Linked DNA regions of Homo sapiens: region 1 is linked to region 2. The links come from fine-mapping of genetic effects on gene expression. A gene starts in region 2. The other region holds a variant in brackets. All regions are shown on one strand. Distances are from middle to middle.

Region 1 (5,375 bases), 40 kb after region 2:
ATGAATAAAGAGGAAGTAAGGACACGAGGGAAGATGGTTAGTAAGACAGAAGGAAGCAAATGAATTAAAGGTCTCAAGAAGACTGAAGAAATACTGGACTGCAGGCATGAGACTGAGATGGAAGGATAAGACATAGGGATCACAATATCCAATCAGAATGCTTAAAATAGAGATTCTGAGAATGGTGTATTATTGGTTTTGACAAGGTTAAGGGCATGACCATAGAAATGGGTGGCTGAAGAGAGAAAATAGAAAATTGCATTTGAGGAGGTCAGAATCTAAGATGCCAAGATGTTGGATAAATCATCCATTTGAGTGTTGAAACCAAAAAAATGATGACAAGAATAGGATAGAGAGAAAGACAGTCAGATGATAAAATCTTCAATGAAAGACAGGGAATGACTCAGAATTTAGTAGAAGTTGCCACCAACAAAGGATATTGGGGGACAAACCAGAGGGTACAAACTCTAAAGCCCCTGGTGTTTTTGAAATAGAAGGGAGAAGAAATCATTGAAAAGCAGCAATGAGGAGTCGGATGGACACTTACTTCCACGCCCACAAAATCCTGGGTTTGACTCTCCTTGGCATAAATGGGGTCGTGTCTAAATCGAGATCTGGGGTGCAGTTCGTCCCTCTCAAACCACACGGACTTAGCTGGGAGAGGACATTGAGATATTATTGCTAGAAGGGGAGGAAAATCTTATAGTGTGTTAATTTCTTGTACAGTTTTGTGTTGATGCTAAAAAACATTTCCGTTACTTCTTTTGGTTCGGTCTCATTAAAAACCACTTGTTTGAGTTGTTCGGTTTAGTTTTCCTTCTGCAGATTATTGAGTCATTTAAATGGATTGTAGTTTTCTCTAACTTACTAACGATGGGATATTCCCATTCAGAACAGGCAGCCAGGGTCTCTTGGACCAGGGTGAAACACCAGGAATTGGAAGATGAATGTTTCATCCTGGTGGGACGCAGCTAAAAAGCTGCCCCGTCATGACCCTCCACTGTCTGGGGAAGGGGTCTCCCTGAGTGGATGCACTGGGGAGCTCATGAATCAGTCAGAGCAGTCCCTCCTCTTGTCTGTGTGGCAGCATGGGGGACCCTCCCAAGATACAGCGAGTGGTGGGGCAGCCCCTTGGAGTTCCCTCTCAGGGGACTCCACGGAGGCCTGCCAGGTGAGTTCCCTCAGGGAACCTGAGGCTTGCAGCCTTTGTCCCAGACTTCCAGGAGAGGAAAAGTTGTCTCCACTGTGATCCTTGCGTTCATGCTCAGGGGCATAAAAAAGAAAGTGGCATATGGATCTTGAGAGAAGGCGTGGCCTGAGGCACCGCTAGAATGTTCACTCTGGCTGTTCCATGGCTCCTGTGAGGATGTCAGGAAAGGTAGGGGATGAAGAGTACATGCAGGCCAGCATCTTCCCATCCCTGCACATCTGACTGGTGTTTTTTTGTTTTTTTTTTGAGTTGGAGTTTCACTCTTTCACCCAGGCTGGAGTGTAGTGGCGTGATCTTGGCTCACTGCAACTTCTGCCTTCCAGTTTCAAGTGATTCTCCTGCCTCAGCTTCCCGAATAGCTGGGGCTACAGGCACGTGCCACCACGCTTGGCTAATTTTTGTATTTTTAGTAGAGACGACATTTCACCATGTTGGCCAGGCTGGTCTCGAATGCCTGATCTTGTGATCTGCCCGCCGATCTGCCCGCCTCGGCCTCCCAAAGTGCTGGGATTACAGGCGTGAGCCACTGTGCTCAGCCCTGACTGGTCTTTAATGGAGCCTACAGACAAGCTGCACGTGGTGCCCTGCAGACCACACCTACCCCTCAGCCATACCCCAGCACCCACGGGAGACTCAATTCCCCTTTCAGATCTAACAGGTATTGGAAAGAGGAAGCATTGTGCAGTGGCACTTCAGAAAAATCCATGTAGGTCCTTAAAAGAAGCAAGAAAGGGAGCTGATAACACTAGTTTTTCCTGAGGGAGATATGATAGCCAGGCTACACAACCAGGATCCCAGGAGTTATCTGGTCCAGATCTGGAAGTGACATGATGTACCGCTGTCGCAGGTATAACATGAATGCCTGCTGAATACATTTGACAATGCAAAGATAAGACATCAAGCCAGGAGATCTTCTGGATAATAGAGACTACTCTGCCCCAAGATAGGCACAGCCAAGCCCCAGCCTGGATAGTATTCATGAGGGCCTTAATGGAAATGAATGGGTCCCACTTAAAAAAATAAATCAGAAAACAAGCTCACTGAATACAACTGGGGTGACAAAAACATGCATCTGAGTGGAGACAGAGGAAATTTCTATCCATTTCTGCCCAATCTAGTGCCTCTGGGCAGAACCAAAAGCCTGGCAAAATCTAGAATTTATACACTACGAAAATCTTAAGAAAATATTCTGGCTCTAAGAATAAATAAAAATAGATTTTAAAATAAGCAGTTTGTGTTCTTCTGCTTTATTTAGACATAGATTTAAATGGTAGGAATCATGTACTTAACCCGGTTAGGAAAATTATATATCACGAGGCGTTTTTTTTGGGTGGGGAGGATGGACTGGGTTTATGATAATTCATAATGTTTGCTACCCACCTGCCAGGGGAAGGACACTGAAAGATCATGGCCCATCAAGGCCTTAGGTCATGCTGCTCTGCTTGCAAATTGCACAACTTTCCTGTTAATTTGCGGGGCAACTTTTGCACACATGTTTACAATCTGGTTAAAGAATCAGCCCTTGCAATGATGTCATTAAACGCACACAGACACAATGGTGCCATAGTAACAACAAGGTGCCTCTGAGCCAGGTGCATTGGCTCACGCCTGTAGTCCCAACACGTTGGGAGACCGAGGAGGGAGGATCCCTTGAGCCTAGGAGTTCGAGACCAGCCTAAGCAATATAGTGAGATTCCGTCTCTACAAAAAAATTAAAAAATAAAAAATCAACTGGGCATGGTGGTGCCCCTGTAGTTCCAGCTACTCAGGAGACTAACGTGGGAGGATCACTTGAGCCTGGGAGGTTAAGTCTGCAGTGAGCTGTGATTGTGCCTTGGGGGCAACAGAGCAACACCTCGTCTCAAAAAAAAAAAAAAAAAAAA[AG/G]TGCCTCTGGAGCTGGAAATTTTCAAGTTCAGTTGCTCCAGCAACTGGGGAGGGTCATGAAGACTATAGGAAAGACACTACTGTTCCCATGCACATTCACAGGAGAGAAAAAAAAGTCCAGCAAGTACCATGTTCATAAAGATTGGCCTGACCCTAGCTGTCCCATGGCAAACAGTCACACCCAAGACTCTCAGCTTTCTTTGGCTCTGATTTGTTTCTGTAACCATGCCAAGATGCCAAGGACAATCAACCAAGCAAGGCTGTGAGGATCTGCAAACTATTGCAGCCCTCAGATTCCCTACTTAAAAGGGAAATAACTGGGCATGGTGGCACGCACCTGTAGTACCAGCTACTTGGGAGGCTGAGGTGGGAGGATCCCTTGAGTTTAGGAGTTTGAGGCTGCAGTGAGCTGATTGTGCCACTACACTCCAGCCTGGGTGACAGAGCGAGACCCCCCTCTCAAAATAAAAATAAAAATAAGAAAAGGGAAGTAATACTGTATGTAGTCCAGAAACAGGTCAGACGCCAAAAGAATCTTATCTGGGCTGTTGTATGAGTCAGGGTCCAATTAGGAACATAAAAACCACACCAGTTATTATAACAGAGGGAATTTAACGGTAAGGACTGCAAAGGCAAAAGACAAATTCCAAGGAACAGAGAGGTGGCAACTGAAGGACGTAGAGCGGTGGAGTTAATGAAAGAAAAAGGTGGGAGTTACTGGAACCTAGAAGCTTGGAGGAGCCCTGCCGAGGTGGAACTCAGGCTTCAGAACACAGAGTGCTGTATAACTGGTGCTGGCATCTTTGAAGGGGCAGGCTAAAGGCTTGTACTTTTTTTTTTTTTTTAATTGAGACGGAGTTTCGCTCTGTTGCCCAGGTTGGAGTGCTTTGGTACAATCTTGGCTCACTGCGACCTCTGCCTCCCAGGTTCAAGCGATTCTCCTGCCTCAGTTTCCTGAGTAGCTGGGATGACAGGCACGTGTCACCACGTCCTGCTTATTTTTGTATTTTTAGTAGAGACAGGGTTTCGTTGTGGTCTCCAGGCTGGTCTCCAACTCCTGACCTCAAGTGATCCACCCGCCTCAGCCTCCCAAAGTGCCGGGATTACAGGCGCTAGCCACCGCGCCCAGCCAAGGGTGGTTCTGAGAATGGGGAAAAAGTTGGAAACTTAAACCAAGTGGGGCTGCCGGGTTAAAGAGCTGTTGCCACCTTGATAGGGGGGCGCAAGAAGTAAACTGCAAGAAGCAAATCCCCGCTCCCTCCTCCCGTCTTGCGGGCTTCCTCTAGCACCCTCTATTGGTGGAGCCCAGCGAAGTGCCAGCTGGCAAAGCAGAAAGTGGTTTGCAGAACCTCAGCCCCAGCGCCATAGGAAACAAAAGCAGGGTTCCAGCTTGGGGCTATTACAAATAACGCTGTTATGAGCGCTCTCATGCATATCTTTTTTTTTTTTTTTTTTTTTTGAGACGGAGTCTCACTCTGTCGCCCAGGTTGGAGTGCAGTGGCGCAATCTCAGCTCACTGCAACCTCTGCCTCCCAGGCTCAAGCGATTCTCCTGCCTCAACCTCCTGAGTAGCTGGGACTACAGGCGTGCACCACCACGCCCGGCTTATTTTTTTGTATTTTTAGTAGAGACGGGGTTTCTCCATGTTGGCCAGGCTGATCTAGAACTCCTGACCTCAGGTGATCCGCCCGCCTAGGCCTCCCAAAATGCTGGGATTACAGGCGTGAGCCAAAGCGCCCGGCCTTAGGTGTGTTTATACCCTGGATTTAACAGATACAGATATTAACCATTCTGGTGGGTGTGTTGTAGTATCTCAAGATTTCAATTTGCATTTTTCTAATAACTAATGAAGTTGAGCATGTTCAGCCATTTGGATATCCTCTTTAGAAAGTGCCTGACCAAGGCCAGATGAGGTGGCTCCCGCCTGTAATCCCTGCACTTTGGGAGACTGAGGCAGGAGGATCCCTTGAGCCCAGGAGGTCGAGGTTGCAGTGACCTATGATGGTGCCACTGCACTCCAACCTGAGTGACGCAGAGAGACTCTGTCTCTTTAAAAAAACAAAAACAAAAACAAAAAAACTGTGTTTCTAACCCATTTAGCCATTTACTACTGAATTATCAGTCTCTGTCTTATTGCTCTGTGGGGATTTTTAATACATTCTTGATAGAAGCCCTTTTAAATATGTGAGTTATATGGCAAATAGTATCTTCTCCCAGTCTGTGAACTTGTCTTTTTCACTCTCTCAACGGTATCTTGTGATGAATAGGTGCTCCTAACTTT
Region 2 (5,375 bases):
CACTGGGAGAATGTTAAAAATATGTAACACAGTATTTTGGCCTTTGAGTGGCTTACAATGTAGTTAGAGGAACAAGAGCACTGCCCAAAAATAAAAGCACTGTAAACATTAAATTACAATATAAAAGAAACCACAGGACAGTGTATAAATATATTTGAGTGGACACTAAAGATTACAGGAAGTTTTTAAAAAAGGTATTACTGAATCGCTTGAACCCAGGAGGTGGAGGGCGCGGTGAGCCGAGATCATGCCATTGCATTCCAGCCTGGGCAACAAGAGTGAAACTCCGTCTCAAAAAAATAAATAAATAATAATTTAAAAAAGGTATTACTCTGGAACTTAGTAGTAGTAAATATTCACAAAAGATGTTGGAATTGAAGGATGGATATTTCCTAATTTGGTAGAGGAAGGCAATTTCAGGTATGGAGAGAGGCCTGAACAAAGGTGGAATGCCTTTGAGGGCAGGCAAATCTGGCTGGTGCAGACCATTATGGAGGTTTGAGCGGACAAGTAATTGGAAATAATGTTGGAAAAGTGGGTTGGGACTAGTATGGTACTTAATGGTTTGAATTTTGTCCTGAGACAAAATTTAATACTAAATATAGTATTAAAGCAAGAGAGTGATAATGGAAAATGTTGGTTTTCTAAAAGCTTAATACAGAGAAGTATTTAGGTAGATGAAGGAAAGAAGAGAATGGAAGCAAAACATAACATTTTGAGTTTGAAGTTAGGGTGCACTCAGTAGGAAATGCTTAATAGGAAGCTAGAGGTACCCGTATGTACCTGGAGTGTGGAAAGGTTAAAAAAGACACTAAAGAGATCTAGTTTTGGTAGACATCTGCGTGATGATTACAGCTGAAACCATAATAGGTGGATTCTTTAAATAATATAAGGGTATAAAAGCAGCCAGGCTAAGGAATGGCCTGTATCCAGCATCTAGGGATGTCTTCCCCTCACCCCAAGATGGTGCCCTTCTGATTCAGGCAGCAACGGGCATGCAGCATTAGCTCTCGTGTCGTTTTACAATAAAAGGCCACTTTTGACAAATTTTGCACGCTCCCTGGACATTGGGTGCATATCTGCAGAAGAGAAAGAAACATTAGAACTCCAGAAAGAAAAGCCAAGAAAAGAACAAACGGCGATCAAGAATTAACTGCCAGTACACGTTTCCAGAATTCCTCTAACACGGGGCCGATAAATGGATAAACGGCTCGTGTCCCACCCTTGTAACAGGCTAGGCTAGGAGATGCCATCTCTTCCTCCAGAGTCCTGCGCCGAATCAGCTCCCGACACTTTCAGTACCAGATATCGCACAGGGAAGGTCCTCATCTCTGAAGATCACTATTCGAACTTATTTATTATGCTTTCTGCAGAGACTTCTCAATCTGACAGCCCTAGTTTGGCGCGGTGTAAAACGACCGCAGGTACGTAAAGAACTCATCAAGCATTACAAAAGTACAGCCCTACCACCGCACGATATATGGCGTTCGTGCGTAGAGAGATTACACAAGAGGCAGAGGACCCGTCTGTAGAAAGAACTTAAAGTTATTCTAAAATTAAGGGGCGAAATCAAGTTTCACAGGTCTTTGAAAGTCGGCAGGACTGGGGCGCCGAAGGCCTGCACGACGTGAGTACTTGGGAACAGGACCTGGCTGGGCAGGGTCGGGAAGCGTCAGGGACGAAATCAGAACCGCAGGCCCGCCGAGGAGAAGGGGGAGCCGCTGGCGAGCGCGACGCACGGCTGGCCAGCGACCCTGCTTCAGCCCGACCTCAAACTTGCTTCTGTACCTCGGGTAGCGCCAGAGCCCTTTCCACGCCCAGAGCGAGGAGCAGGGCGGCAGCCCAGGGCACCAGGGTCGTAAGACTACCCGGGTCGTGAGGCGCCATTTTCCGTTCCCTTGGTGCTCCGCTGCTCGCGCGACCCGGCCCCGCGGCCCCGCCCCGCAGCGCGTCAGGCCCTCTTCCCCGGGCGTGGCCTAAGCGGCCCGGTCCAGTCGCCCTGGGGCTGCTTGGGGGCTTTTCCTGCTCGTGGAGCTCTGCGCTGGTCTTCATGCGCCCTAGCCCTCTTTCGGGGATACTGGCCGACCCCCTCTTCCTTTTCCCCTTTAGTGAAGGCCTCCCCCGTCGCCGCGCGGCTTCCCGGAGCCGACTGCAGACTCCCTCAGCCCGGTGTTCCCCGCGTCCGGACGCCGAGGTCGCGGCTTCGCAGAAACTCGGGCCCCTCCATCCGCCCTCAGTAAACATGGCGGCACGGCGAGCGGGGCGGGCAGGGGGCGGGCAGGGGGCGGGGCCCCCGCGGGCTCCCGGCCAGGGCTCTCGGCCGGGCTCTGGCTACCCACGTGTGGAGACCGGGCAGGTGGGCCTGGAGAGCGTGAGCCGGTGCCGAGAGGCACCGGGGAGCGGCGTCTGAGCCGGGGCGGGGACAAGGGGGCGGGGAGGGGCGGAGCGAGCCGGCCTCCGGCGTGGGTCTGAGATCTTAAGTGCGAGCGGTAAGGTGGTGGTCTCCGCCGCGTAGAGGGAAGCGGGAAACCGAGAAAGAACGAGGGTGAGGGTGATGAGGGAAGGGCAAACCTCAAACTCCAGCGGGAGGACACGAGCCTGGATCGCCCCGGGCACCTAGTCCTCTTCACCTCAATGCTGATAGCGCATAGCGTCCCGGAGCCTGGCGAGGAGGTAGGAGCGGGATAGACGCTTCCCTAACTCATTTTCTTTGCCTTCCCAGGAAAAGGGAGCGATGTTGATCTCAGGAAGCACAAAGGGACCTTCCTAGCTCTGACTGAACCACGGAGGTAAGGGAGTGCGTTGCTGCCCCAGGGTGGGCCAGCGCCCTGACTGAAGGGCGCCAGGGGATCCCTGCTCCCGGCGCGACAGTGTTGGTTAGGGCCAGCCAGAAAGCTCCTTAAAGCCGACCCAAGTGATCATCTCGAGTAGCCGAGCCAGGCTTCCCTTCCACATTACCCCCATGGTGTCTGCCTGGAAGTTCCTGAAAGGTTTACGTTTAGCTGGCTGGCAAATTTTCTAAGGTGTTAGTAGCTATTAGCATTTTAAGGAGGGCCCCCAAAGCCTTTCACACCTTGAGGAATTATAGGCCCCAGGACAGATTTTGAGGGAATCTTTTTGGAACAGTTAGTCCTGCAGTGGTCTCATTGCCTTTTGTAGGAGTCAATGCGATCCACTGCAGTGTGTGACCAAAGTGAGTTCAGGTTTTTATTTTTATTTTTATTTTTATTTTGAGACGGAGTCTCGCTCTGTCGCCCAGGCTGGAGTGCAGTGGCGCGATCTCGGCTCACTGCAAGCTCCGCCTCGCGGGTTCACGCCATTCTCCTGCCTCAACCTCCCGAGTAGCTGGGACTACAGGCGCCTGCCACCACGCCTGGCTAATTTTTTGTATTTTTTAGTAGAGACGGGGTTTCACCGTGTTAGCCAGGATGGTCTCGATCTCCTGACCTCGTGATCTGCCCGCCTCGGCCTCCCAAAGTGCTGGGATTACAGGCAGTGATGTGGGACCCCTTTTAAAAACCTGAACTTGGCCTGGCGCGGTGGCCAGGCCACCGATCCGCCAAGGCAGGTGGATCGTCATGTCAGGAGTTTTGAGACCAGCCTGGCCAATATGGTGAAATCTCGTCTCTACTAAAAATACAAAAAAAAAAAAAAAAAATTAGCTGGGCGCGGTAGCACATGCCTGTAGTCCCAGCTACTCAGGAGGCTGAGGCAGAAGAATCACTTGAACCCAGGAGGTGGAGGTTGCAGTGAGCCGAGATCGTGTCACTGCACTCCAGCCTGGGCGACAGAGCGAGACTCCGTCTCCAAAAAAAAAGGGGGGGGGGTCCCACAATCTGCTGTTTGTGCCTTGGCATGTTATAGTTGTAGTGAAACAACAGCTAGCTCTTGCTTTTGGCCGCCCTCTTTCTGGAGAGATGCGAGACCATAGCGTTTGGATCAATGTAGGGTGTTTAGAAAACTACAGATCTGTTCTCAGAATCTGGTCTGTTGCTAGGTCAGGTTTTTCCTGTCTTCCCTGGGGCTCTCTCAGGCCATCCAGGGGAATTCTCCATACATCATGCAAATAGAATTTTATCAGGAAGTCCCATCAGCAGAGTGTCTTTATTTCTGTACCTCCGTGTCCCATACTGGGACTTTCCTTCCTGTCTCTGGCCACCTACCTCTCTAAACCACTAACCCTATAGTTAGTTCTTTGTTCTGTGTTCTTTGCACACAGGAGACCTCTTCTTTCCTCTTACTCCCCAGTAGTTCCCATCATCTCTATCATAGCAGTAAAAACTTGCCAAAGACGAATGAGAAAACTCAGGGTGTTGCAATGTGCAAAGGCCCAGGGCATGTTTAGGTTAAACCAGAGTTTAAGCCTGTTGGGAATCTTGTAGAACATGTGATCCAAGAGTTGCCAGGTCTGATTTTCCCTCTTTATTGGCCCCAAGAGGTTCAGAGTTCAGGTTTAGTCTGCATGAGGCCATATCTTGCCAGCCAGCCAGTGTCTGCCCAAGAACACACTGTGGGAGAGCGGAAAGGCAGCCTAATCTTTCTCCTAGTGGGCAAAAGCAGAAGACATAGTTTATGTTAGTCTGTCTCTTGATTAGTTGAAATCTAAACTATGTCCTGTGAATGACTGACTGCAACACTCTGCTCCTGTCCTGGTTCTGGGAATAGTGAGGACAGGGCCCTTGCTGAACACCTGTCATAGCTGCAGACAGCACTGTTTCTCTCTCTCTTGTTTTGTATCATGCTGCATAACCTTGAGCAAGTTATTTAATCTCTCAGTTTTCTTGTGTTAACTGGAGAGTATTCGTGTCTTAATCTGAGACATGCTGTTTTGAAAATGTTAGCTTCATTATGTATTATTACTAATGTTTATAAAGCACCTCACACACTGCTGGGTTACATAGCAGGTGTTCAGCAAATGTTAACTGTCGTCATGTTAGGCTGTGTAACTACATGGCATTCTCTGGTGTTTTTTCCTCATACCAATAAGTACCCCAGAGGATTGCCTTTGAAGACAATATGATACGCTTGGAGAACAGACAGGGTGGATGGTGAATCCCTAGACCTGGGTTCTAATTTATGCTCTGACAATAGTCGGCTCTGTGCTTTTGGAAAGGTCACTTGAACCATCTGAGCCTTAGCGTGTTTATCTGTGAAATCGTCAGTGGTGGGGGGTTGGTTGTAATAGTGGTGTCCAAAGATTTAAGATTTTAAATATTATGATCCCTTCCCTCTTTCTCTGAGGATTGTGGTGTATTCTTGGGGGATTAACATTTCTTGTGCAGGAGTTAGAAAATCAACTTTCAACTTTCCCATGTTTTCAGTTCCTTCTTTCCAACTCCCTCCCGCACAGAGTGCCAAGAGTACTTTAGGCTGAA

Direction of the effects. Positions count from the first base shown, and alleles are read on the strand shown. Sizes are in standard deviations (SD) of each study's normalised expression.
As copies of AG replace G in region 1, the expression in prefrontal cortex of the gene that starts at base 2,215 in region 2 goes down (small effect, 0.22 SD a copy in BrainSeq).

Evidence for each region. PIP is the estimated chance that this variant, and not a neighbour inherited with it, causes the effect.
Region 1: its variant is fine-mapped to the expression of ATRAID in prefrontal cortex (BrainSeq, PIP 0.95).

Annotation. Positions count from the first base shown.
Region 1 is chr2:27,169,041-27,174,415 of GRCh38, reverse strand. No RefSeq gene overlaps it. Among named protein-coding and RNA genes, the nearest start is that of TCF23, 23 kb to the right of the region's middle. RefSeq lists an enhancer at 2,601-2,895 and a silencer at 4,351-4,400. The variant AG/G (reference allele first, on the strand shown) is at 3,094.
Region 2 is chr2:27,208,881-27,214,255 of GRCh38, reverse strand. ATRAID (all-trans retinoic acid induced differentiation factor) reads right to left here and starts at 2,215. Exons shown (of 7, transcript NM_001170795.4): 1 at 1,789-2,215; 2 at 958-1,079. The coding sequence starts at 1,887. SLC5A6 (solute carrier family 5 member 6) reads left to right here and starts at 1,988. Exons shown (of 17, transcript NM_021095.4): 1 at 1,988-2,236; 2 at 2,723-2,789. RefSeq lists silencers at 1,792-2,041, 2,232-2,551 and enhancers at 3,334-4,131, 4,086-4,145.